3 linked regions of the Homo sapiens genome follow. The protein of the gene in region 3 purifies or fractionates together with the protein of the main gene of each other region. This does not show direct contact. Each region holds a gene or a part of one and is shown on either strand. Other genes may lie near its edges.

The links.
Region 1: the proteins of OPA3 (region 3) and SCO1 purify together in Homo sapiens (affinity purification with mass spectrometry; one large-scale study listed by BioGRID and IntAct). This does not show direct contact.
Region 2: the proteins of OPA3 (region 3) and IARS2 purify together in Homo sapiens (co-immunoprecipitation; one large-scale study listed by IntAct). This does not show direct contact.

Annotation. Positions count from the first base shown.
Region 1 is NC_000017.11:10,690,980-10,694,632, forward strand, and holds part of SCO1 (protein SCO1 homolog, mitochondrial), read right to left. Parts: intron 1,983-3,653; coding exon 1,785-1,982; intron 986-1,784; coding exon 893-985; intron 1-892. UniProt on the Homo sapiens protein: Copper metallochaperone essential for the maturation of cytochrome c oxidase subunit II (MT-CO2/COX2). Not required for the synthesis of MT-CO2/COX2 but plays a crucial role in stabilizing MT-CO2/COX2 during its subsequent maturation.
Region 2 is NC_000001.11:220,139,013-220,142,665, forward strand, and holds part of IARS2 (isoleucine--tRNA ligase, mitochondrial precursor), read left to right. Parts: coding exon 1-127; intron 128-1,170; coding exon 1,171-1,277; intron 1,278-2,790; coding exon 2,791-2,936; intron 2,937-3,653.
Region 3 is NC_000019.10:45,557,246-45,560,898, forward strand, and holds part of OPA3 (optic atrophy 3 protein), read right to left. Parts: intron 1-3,653. UniProt on the Homo sapiens protein: May play some role in mitochondrial processes.

The sequences.
Region 1 (3,653 bases), on a different chromosome or scaffold from region 3:
AAAAGTTGATCTCACAGAAGTAGAGAGAAGAATTGTGGATACTAGAGGCTGGAAAGGGTTGGGGAGGATAGGGACTCTGTACCCCATAAATATGTACAACTGTTATGTGTCAATTAAACAACAGTTACTTTGTCATAGTAAATGTTTTATTTATCTTTAAGACAGAGTCTAGCTCTGTTGCCCAGGCTGAAGATCAGTGGCGTGATGTCAGCTCACTGCTACCTCCGCCTGCCAGGTTCACGCGAATTCTCCTGCCTCAGCCTCCCGAATATCTGGGATTATAGGTGTGCACCACCGTGCCTGGCTAATTTTTGTATTTTTAGTAGAGACGGGGCTTCACCATGTTGGCCAGGCTGGTCTCAAACTCCTGACCTCAGGTGATCCACCCACTTTGGTCTCCCAAAGTGCTGGGATTACAGGCCCACCATGCCCGGCCTGTTACAGTAAATGTTTTAAATTTATAAAACATGCACTGAGTTCAAAATATGTTTGTATTTAATTATTCATCTTTAATCTACCAATGAACATACTTCCAGAATATATGTTTGTTCTGATTTTACAATGCAGAGAATGAGTTACAGCGCTGGAGTTAGAAGCAATGTGTCCTTACTCTCAATTCAAGGCTCGATTAACTTAGTTGATACATGAAGGCCAAGTTCAAATCCTTTCTCTGTGACAAAATATAAAGAGCACTGCATCAGGAATTGAGAAACCCATTTCTTACTTACGCACTAACTATCCATAACAATTCCTAGCTTCACCTTTTTATTCACCCATAAAACTGGTGATAATACCATTTGTCCTATTTCACAAGGCACTGTAAGGTTCAAATGAACTGATATTCCAAAAACTTTAAGGCTAAATAAATGTAAAGTATTATTTAAAAAAATACCTTTCACATAATTTGCGATGGCTTCTTTTGTGTCCCTCTCTGGGTCAATGCTGATGAAAAGTGGAGTTAGATCTGGCAGAGTTGTAATGCTATCTGAAAGAGAGTTCCAATTAGTCCGTATTCACACCCTAAGGGAAAAGACAAAGAAAACCAGCAATAACAGGAGAGTATAGGACGTGCTGGACAGCTAGGTGTTTTGAAAGCAGATGGACATCTTAACATTCAGGTGAAGAGGAAGAGGACGGGGAAGGGGATGGAGAAGGGATGGCCTTTAGGAGGAGGAGACCCATATACAGTAGTATTATCTGTGGTGGATAATACAAGGTTACATATCCTATCAAATGCCTGCACCAGCACATAAATGTTCTTCCCCTGGATAATGTCATGTGGCTATCTTATCTCTGAATCCACTCCAGTATCTGTAGTTTTTTTCACTCCCACCATATCTCAAGGGCAAGAAGGTAAATTGTTAATAAGAGCTGAATATCCTGAAATAATTCACTGTATGGAGGAGGCACCCTTCCTTCTTACTAGTACTAGTAAAATGCCACAGACTGCAGACCATTGCAAAGATTTCCTAATTTAATTGTCACAATCAGTGGGGAAGAGGCAATGGCAGCATCAGTGATGCAAAGGAAGGGACACAAAAGTAGAGTTAAGGGAGACCACACTGACATTTTTAAGTGATCTAACATTTAACATCAAAACAAGCTTCTTTCAGTGGAGAATAAGGTCACAAGATTCAAAGCAACAAACAAGCCAAATGCTGAGATTTTATGTTCTTACAAATCACATAATTGCAAAACCCCACCTAACAATAATACAAGGGTGTGAAAAACCTGGTAACATGAAGTAAACATATACTTTGTTTAGTTAGTGATGGCTTTCTTACCTATTTCATCCACGACTTGAATCATCTTTTCTAGTTCTTCTGGACAGACATCAGGGCAATGAGTGAAGCCAAAATAAATCAATAACCACTGACCCAAGTAGTCCTTGTCAGTTTTACGCTCCCCAGTATGAGTTGTGAGGGAAAACGGTCCCCCAAGTAAAGGCTTGCCGATGTGTCGCTGCCGTTCCTTCTCTAACTCTTAAGGAGACAAAAACATATCGACACCAAAAAAAAAGTCAATTTAACCAGAGGTACTCAAATACCTGACATATGGCCCGTACTATGCTACTCATGGTGGGGGCACAAAATGTGGAAAAAACAGTTTCAGTTTTCAAGAAGCTAAAAAAATCTTTTCAGAAAAATAAGCACAAAACATTAAAACAAAATCAAATGAAATGCTATGGTATGTTGTAAAAAAGGAAAAAATATTTCTTCTTTTTCAGGAACAATTCAGTCCTAAGCCATTAGCTGTGTCCATGCTGGGGGCAGGGAGGGGCTGCAGTGGCCTAGAGCTGAATGTCTAAACAAGTGGGGTGCGGTGGGTGGCCTGGCATAGGGAGTCTGATCCTGAGGGTGCTAAGGAGGGCAGCTGGGTGGGGAGGTGATAGTGGTGACGGGACCTTAGTTACACACAGGAAATTGATGAAATAAATGAGTATATTAAAGAGAAGAGAGTTACAATAGGAAACAAGAGTCAACTATGGAGAGAAAGAGAGCTAGGCTGAACCCTGCAGTACTGCAAATACACTGCAGGTACTAGTGTGAACTTCTATCTATATAGATATAAATAAATATAGATGTACATAAATATATCTATTTTCTCACCATGTCCACTGAGAGGACCAGGGAGCAGACACACTCCAAGAACCATGAGCCCAGAACCTGACTTCTAAATATCATTCTTCACTAAAAGGAAACAGCTTTTTGGAGAAATGGCTGATACCAGGGTTGCGGCAAAGAAAGTGTAAAATGAGGCTGGAACCTCTTGTTGTGGCAGAAGGAAAGCAGAACTTAGAGAATATTGGAGACGTGTCAAAGACACAGAAGCCTGCTCCAAGGGGGCTCCCGCTGATCAATCTGGGACAACTTGGGCATCAAAATAAAGAGAATATGGATTTAAACTGAATGAATATATAGGAAACAAGTCCACAGATATAAATAAATGAATACATTGATAGTGGGATGGGGAACAGAATATGTAAGTATACGTATGTCAATACAAATCATGAAACACCATTAATTACATGAGTAACTTTTCAGTAGAAAACCTGTTAGACACACATTAATCAAGTGATCAAACTGGACATTATCAGTAATGGGACAACTGGTACTATGTGGTATCTGACCAGATGCACGGAGAATACAGCATCACTTTTGTGATATTCCTGCCAAAGGTACACAACCCGAATGACCTGAATGAGGAAACATCAGACAAATCCAAGCTAAGGGGCATTCTACAAAATAACTCTCCTGTAACTGTCAAAGCTGTCAAGGTTGTGGGAGTCAGTTAAAGCCTGGGAAACTGTTACAGATGAAGGAGGCTAAGGTAAACAACTAGATACAAGGTGGTATGGTTCTGAAACAGATCCTTTTGCTCTGAAAGACATCAAGTGGCAAAACTTGGAAGACTGAACTGTAATCCAGCCTGGGCAACAGGAGTGAAACTCTGTCTCAAAAAACAAACAAATAAACAATACCCTGAAGATTATCTGAACACTGAACAGCAGCAAAATTATCAGCGTCAATTTTCTAATTTTGATGGTTGTATTGTGGTTATGCTAGAAAAGGTCCTTGTTTGTAGGAAATACACCAAAAAGTGTTTGGAGCTAATGACGCAACATGTCAGCAAATAAATACTCTCAAATTATT
Region 2 (3,653 bases), on a different chromosome or scaffold from region 3:
GAATACACTTCGCTTTCTTTTGGGAAATGTGGCTGATTTCAACCCAGAAACAGATTCCATCCCTGTAAACGATATGTATGTCATAGACCAGTACATGCTACACTTACTGCAGGATTTGGCAAACAAGGTAAATGTAAATTAATAAACTTTTGGAAACTAGAAATATCAGCACTATTGTAGGTTAAAATTTTAGTTTTATCTGAGTGGAACAGACCTTGCTGGAAATAGTAACTATAGCACTCTTGAAGAGAAATATGTCCAGACTTCCCCTCGGACCAGATTTTTCTCTCATGATTAGCTCTATTTTTCCAACAAGAAGGAATAAAGTGGAGTTATACTTTATCTGCACATGTGCTCCTCATAATAAAGTACAGAAATAACCAAAATGGACTATCCTATTTGTCTCATAAGATACTTACTCATTTTCATATAGACTTAAATAATTTCTGTTTTCTGGCTGGGTGTGGAAACTCACACCTATAAATCCTACTACTTTGGGAGGCCGAGGTGGGAGGATTGCTTGAGGCCAGGTGTTCAAGACCAGCCTGGGCAACAGAGCAGGAACCTATCTCTAGAAAAATTTTAAAAATTAGCCAGGCGTGTTAGCCAGTGCATGTAGTCCCAGCTCCTTGGGAGGCTGAGGCAGGAGAATCGCTTGAGCCCATGGTTTTGAGGCTGCAGTGAGCTGTGATTGTGCCACTGCACTCCAGCCTGGTTGACAGAGTGAGACCCTGTCTTAAAAAAAAAAAATTGTGTTTTCTCATAATTGGAAATGTGTTTGCATTAGTGTACCCTTAAGTCAGAGGTGTACATACCAATTTTGCCCAAATCAAAAATAAATGAGGCATAAATGAAGGAACACTAATGAATTGTTGGTGACGTCCACTGTTTGCTGTTGTTAAAATGGTGTGATTTTGTTATTTACAATCTCATTCTTTCCTTAATTAATGTCCTTTCGTAGTTCTCAGAGTAAAATAGTATTTTCTGAGTGTAGTCAAATGTGTTATCCAGAAATGACATTTGGAAGATTCCCAGGAGTTCTTGCATATTGCCTGTTTTGTATTTGTCTCATTGAAACATATTTTTGAAAGGAGCATATTTTGCTTGTGATGACTTACATTTTCATTTGCCTGTCTCAGCTTCCAAATTTATTTTGGCTTTGTTCCCTAGATTACCGAATTATACAAACAATATGATTTTGGAAAAGTTGTTCGGCTGTTACGGACGTTTTATACCAGAGAGCTCTCTAACTTTTATTTCAGTATAATCAAAGATAGGTATGTATGACTAAATATTAAAATGCTTAACAATGGCCAGGTGTGGTGACTCACGCCTGTAATCCCAGCACTTTGGGAGGCCGAGGCGGGTGGATGACATGAGGCCAGGAGTTCGAGACCAGTATGGCAAAATACAAAAATTAGCCGGGCATGGTGGCACATGCCTGTAATCCGAGTCACTCAGGAGACTGAGGCACGAGAATCGCTTGAACTTGGGAGGCGGAGGTTGCAATGAGCAGAGATTGTGCTGCTGCACTCCAGCCTGGGTGACAGAGCAAGATCTCGTCTCAAAAAATAACAACAACAAAACCTCAACAAGTATTTTTTGAGTGTCTACTTGTGTTTGGCAACCGTCAGGGATACAGTGATGAGCAAGATGGGCAGTGTTGTGCAGTTATTAAGATTGGGTTCCGGGCCAGGCGTGGTGCCTCACGCCTGTAATCCCAGCACTTTGGGAGGCCGAGGCGGGCGGATCACGAGGTCAGGAGATCGAGACCATCCTGGCTAACACAGTGAAACCCCGTCTCTACTAAAAATACAAAAAATTAGCTGGGCGTGGTGGCGGGTGCCTGTAGTTCCAGCTACTTGGGAGGCTGAGGCAGGAGAATGGCGTGAACCCGGGAGGCAGAGCTTGCAGTGAGCCGAGATCGTGACACTGCACTTCAGCCTGGGCGACAGAGCAAGACTCCGTCTCAAAAAAAAAAAAAAAAAAAGATTGGGTTCCGGAGTCAAGTCTGAGTATAAAGGTTTGACCTCCCGCTTACTAGCTTTCTGATTTGGGGCAACTTATTCTGTAATCTGTTTCTTCATCTGTAAAATGGGTATAATAATACTTACCTCGTGATTGAGAAGGAAAAGCAATAATGTGCTTAAAGCTGTGCTTGATAAAGTGTTCAAAAAATCATCACTACTAATATCAGACGATGAACATAATGCTTGTTCTCAGGAGTTCTCAAATCCTGAGGGGAAGAGAGAGATATATATGTGCAATTATATGGTAACAGTGTATAATATTAGCAGTATCCTTGTAGAAGAGGCCTTGATGCCAAGTCTTCATCTGTTGCTCCAGTGTGCAGGTGACGGTCCTACCTTCATGGTAATGAGTCCAGTCTGAGGCGTTATCCTCAGCCTGTCAGCACCCCAAGGACCTTGCACATAGGGATTATAACTCCTACTCCTTCCCTTAAAACACTAATAACATTGGAGTGGGTGGGAGCCACATGTTAAATACCATCAACTAACTTATTCATAGTCCTTTAATACAGTAGTCTAGACTCTAGTTGTCATCCACCTGAGAAACAGAATGAGATAGCGTAGCCATGAGTGCTTTCAAGGAGGTGGGTACACCTGGACGGAGTAAAATTGTAGGAGAGTGTATTGTATTCTTTAAGTAGAAGATGATTAGAGCCATAGGATTAGCCACTAGGAATAAACTCAACCTGAGGCAGGTCCCATCTAGGTGACCATAATGTATAAAGTATTGTCAACTGCTGAATAAGTTGTTCTTGTTCAGGCTCTATTGTGAAAAGGAAAATGACCCCAAACGACGCTCTTGTCAGACTGCATTAGTTGAAATTTTGGATGTAATAGTTCGTTCTTTTGCTCCCATTCTTCCTCACCTGGCTGAAGAGGTGTTCCAGCACATACCTTATATTAAAGGTAAGGAATACTTCATTTATTCTCTTAATGAGAAATATCCCTGATCAAGGTGCAACTTCTACTTCTATCTGCTTCATAAAAGGGGCACTTATCCATTTACAGTGACTGCTGTGTGACACAGTGTGTCTTGGTCATGTATTTGTTTCTGCACCTATTTGTAGAGGAGTAGGGTAAATTTCAGAATTCTGTGCTTTCTGAAATGTATTAGCAGCTTGACAGTGTCGAGAAATCACCTTTTTTCTTAAATACCTTTATAACTGTTCTGAAATGGCTGGCATGGTGGCTCACACCTGTAATCCCAGCACTTTGGGAGGCCGAGGTGGGCAGATCACTTGAGGTCAGGAGTTCAAAATTAGCCAGGCCAACATGGCGAAACCCCATCTCTACTAAAAATATAAAAATTAGTGGGGCATGGTGGTGGCGGGTGCCTGTAGTCCCAGCTACTTGGGAGGCTAAGGCAGGAGAATTGCTTGAACTCGGGAGGTGGAAGTTGCAGTGAGCCAAGATCATGCCACTGTACTTCAGCCTGGGTGACAGAGCAAGACTGTCAAAAAAAATGTTCTGAAATATATTTTAGGTTGTATTAAAACAAAATATAGTGCTTTTAGTGAGTTTTATGTTAGTTGTTTTCTTCTGATTGTATTAAGTTTATAAAAATTAGAAACTATAGAAGTGTAGGAAGAGGGGGAAGTCACTTATAATGTTACTCCTGATAGC
Region 3 (3,653 bases):
TCAAGAGGGTGTGTGTGTGTGTGCACGCGTGTGTGCACGCAGGCATGGGCTTTCAGGGCTTTCAGAGCAGGGGCCGACGGCATTCTCCCTCGGGCCAGCGGTCAGATGTGGGGTTCAGGAAACAAGGCCCAGGTGGGGATGAATCACAGGGCTGTGATTCTAGAAGGGACAGCTGTGAGGGGCCGGGACAGGCTAAGCTGGAGGACTCACCAGACTTGCGGGGGTCAACACGCTCCAGATGTCTCCTAGACCTCTCACACTCAGCACATCCAAACCTGAACCCAGCACCTGGCCCCACACCTGTCCCCTGGCTAGAGACGGGGGCCTCAGCCCAGCTGTTCCCCTTCTCCCACAGCCTCTCAGCTGCGTGTCGGGTCCATTCTGCATCTTGAACATCTCTCCCAGTGGATTCCCTTCTGCTGTCCTGGTCCAGGATCCATCCCAGCTCTGACCAACGTTCTCCTCCCTGACCTCCTGAATAGGAGGAATACAGCCTGTCTATCCCCTTCTGAGTGCCTATCACAACCAGGAATAGTGGCTATCCAGTTACCTGTCTGCAATCAGTCTCCCCACTGTCCTGTAAGCCTCACAAGGGTGGGGCCCAGGGCTGTCACAGTCACTGCTGTGTCCCCAGCACTGCCCAGTGCCAGGCCAGGCACACGCATGATGCTCATTAGATCTAAGCTTAACACATAAGTGAGTCCCGCCTCCAGCCTCCTTCCCACCTGCCGGCCCCAGCCTCACCCCTCTGCAATTGTCCCCCACGCAGCAATCAGAAGGAATTGGTGAGAAGAAAAGAACAAACTGGCTGGGCGCGGTAGCTCAGGCCTTTAATCCCAGCGCTTTGGGAGGCTGAGACAGGCAGATCATGAGGTAAGGAGTTCAAGACCAGCCTGGCCAACATGGTGAAACCCATCTCCAGTAAAAATACAAAAAATTAGCGGGGCGTGGTGGGAGGCCCCTGTAATCCCACCTACTCGGGAGGCTGAGACAGGAGAATCGCTTGAACCCAGGAGGTGGAGGTTGCCGTGAGCCAAGACCACGCCACTGCACTCCAGCCTGGGCAACAAGAGCAAGACTGTCTCAAAAAAAGAAAAGAAAAGAACAAACCTACCATTCCCCGTCGCCCCACCCCCAACTCCTGCCGCAAATAAAAGTAACACATGGCAAGAAAACAAAGTACTCAAACTATAAAATGTAAAGCCAAAGTCCCCTCCTCAGAGGAACCCTCAACTACTGCGGTCGCCAGCCTGTTTTCCCCTAGCGCCATCTCCTGGACAGCCCATAGTAAGCATACCTCACTCATTTCTGAGCTCTTCAACTGGAGGTTTGTTCAGATCTACGCCATCGTTACCTACTCATAATCCAGCCCCACTATGAAAGGTGAGCACTCTGCCCCCATGCGGCCTGCCCTTTCTCCGCTCCCCCATTTCTACAGGGGATTTGTATGCAGTTTTTATTATTCTATGTTCTGCTGTTTTTTTTTTTTATTTTTTTTAGACGGAGTCTCGCTTTGTCCCCAAGGCTGGAGTGCAGTGGCATGATCTCCGCTCTGCAATGCAGTGGCCATGGAAACACTCTCCAGTGTGGTGTGACTAAGGCAGAGAGGAGACCCTCTGAGTGCTGCTTCATGAGACTTTGGTGCTTTTTTTTTTGATACAGAGTCTTGCTCTTGTTGCCCAGGCTGGAGTGCAGTGGCTTGATCTTGGCTCACTGCAACCTCTGCCTCCCGGGTTCGAGTGATTCTCCTGCCTGAGCCTCCCAAGTAGCTGGGATTACAGGCGCCCACCACCATGTCCGACTAATTTTTGTATTTTTAGTAGAGACGGGATTTCACCATGTTGGCCAGGCTGGTCTCAAACTCCTGACCTCAAGTGATCCATTCACCTTGGCCTCCCAAAGTACTGGGACTACAGGTGTGAGCCACCGTGTCTGGCCTAACTCCAACTTCATGAGAGATCTTAACCTATAATTTTCCTTTTCTGTAATGACTTTATCAGGCTTTGATATCAGTATTCTATTGGACTCATAAAATGAGTAAGTCAGTATTCCTACTTTCTCTATTACTTAAAAGAATATGGACAATGGTCTTTCTTTCTTTCTTTTCTTTTCTTTCTTTCTCTTCTCTCTCTTCTTTCCCTCTTTTTCTTTCTTTTTTTTTTTTTTTTTTTTTTGAGATGGAGTCTCGCCATGCTGTCCCAGGTGGACTGTAGTGGCACAATCTCGGCTCACTGCAACCTCCGCTTCCCGGGTTCAAGTGATTCTCTCACCTCAGCCTCCCATGTAGCTGGGACTACAGGCACATACCACCACACCTGGCTAATTTTTGTATATTTTGGTAGAGACAGGGTTTCACCATGTTGACCAGGCTGGTCTCGAACTCCTGACCTCACGTGATCCACCCGCCTCAGCCTCCCAAAGTGCTGGGATTACAGGTGTGAGCCACCGCACCTGGCCCCCTCCATTTCTCTCTTCCTGTCTTTTCCCAATTCTTCTTTTAGATCTCAGCTGGACTGTCCCTTCCTCCAGGAAGCCCTCCCTGAACCATAGGCTGGGTCAGACACATTCTCAAGGTTCTCAAAGCTCCCTGGGCTTAACACGAGGCCGGCCTTAATAAATGGCAGCAAGACCTTTGGAGTCGCACAGACCTGGACTCAAATCCTGGTTCTGTCACTTTCTGGATTCGCAAGCTGAGCCTTGGTGTTTCCTTATCAAAACTGGGGGTCAAAATACTCAACTGACAGGATTGGGAGAATGGCAATGACAGAGTAAGGGAGAAAATGCTCAGTTTGTAAATGTTAACCTAATATCCTCTTCCTGACTTCTGTCAGGAATTTTATTCCTGGAAGTACATCCTACCCACTGGTGTGAATCTACTCTTGGGTTACATAGAATCGTTTTCCGTCTCCTCCCTGAACTCTCTCCCTCCAGACTCACTCCCTTTCATCTGTCTTCCATACCGGAGAATCCCAACTCAGATGTCCCCTCCTCCAGGAAGCCTTCCCTGACCTCCAGACCCCTGGGATCCTCTATCTGAGCTCTGACTGCTCTGGGTCCTCACTGCATGGTGACAAGTCTGTCTCTCCAACTGGACTGTGAGGCCGATGCAGGCAGGACCTGAGGCTAACTCGGTCACTGCACTGTCCCCAGCCCCAGATAGGCACAGAGCAGGCACTTAATGAAAAAGCTGATCTGTGGAGGTGCCCAGGAGGTGACCATGGACAATGGGTATGGCTCCTGTCTCTGGCTCCCCCATCTCCCTTCTCTCTCTCCTGATGCTTTTGGTGTTATCTGTCCCCTCGAGAATGTGGCACTGTGCATTGCCCCTCCTCCTGGATTTCCTGGATTGGCTCCAGGCCCCCTCTACACATCTGTCTCTGATATAGACCCTTTCCTCGGCCTCAGTGGCTGTCATTTCTCAGGGCACCATTTCCTAAGCCCTTTTCTCACTCGACTGTCACATCTACTTCCAGGGGCCACTCAGAACTTCAGGACCCAAACTCCTATGCTCAGATCTCTCTCAGCCCCGGAGCTCCAGGCCACAGGCACTTCAGACACTCTAGGTCACAACACAGTGGCTGACCAAGCCCAGAGAGATTTCCCCGGGAAAGGAGGGATATCTTAACCCACTGAGGCAAGTAAAGTGACGTACT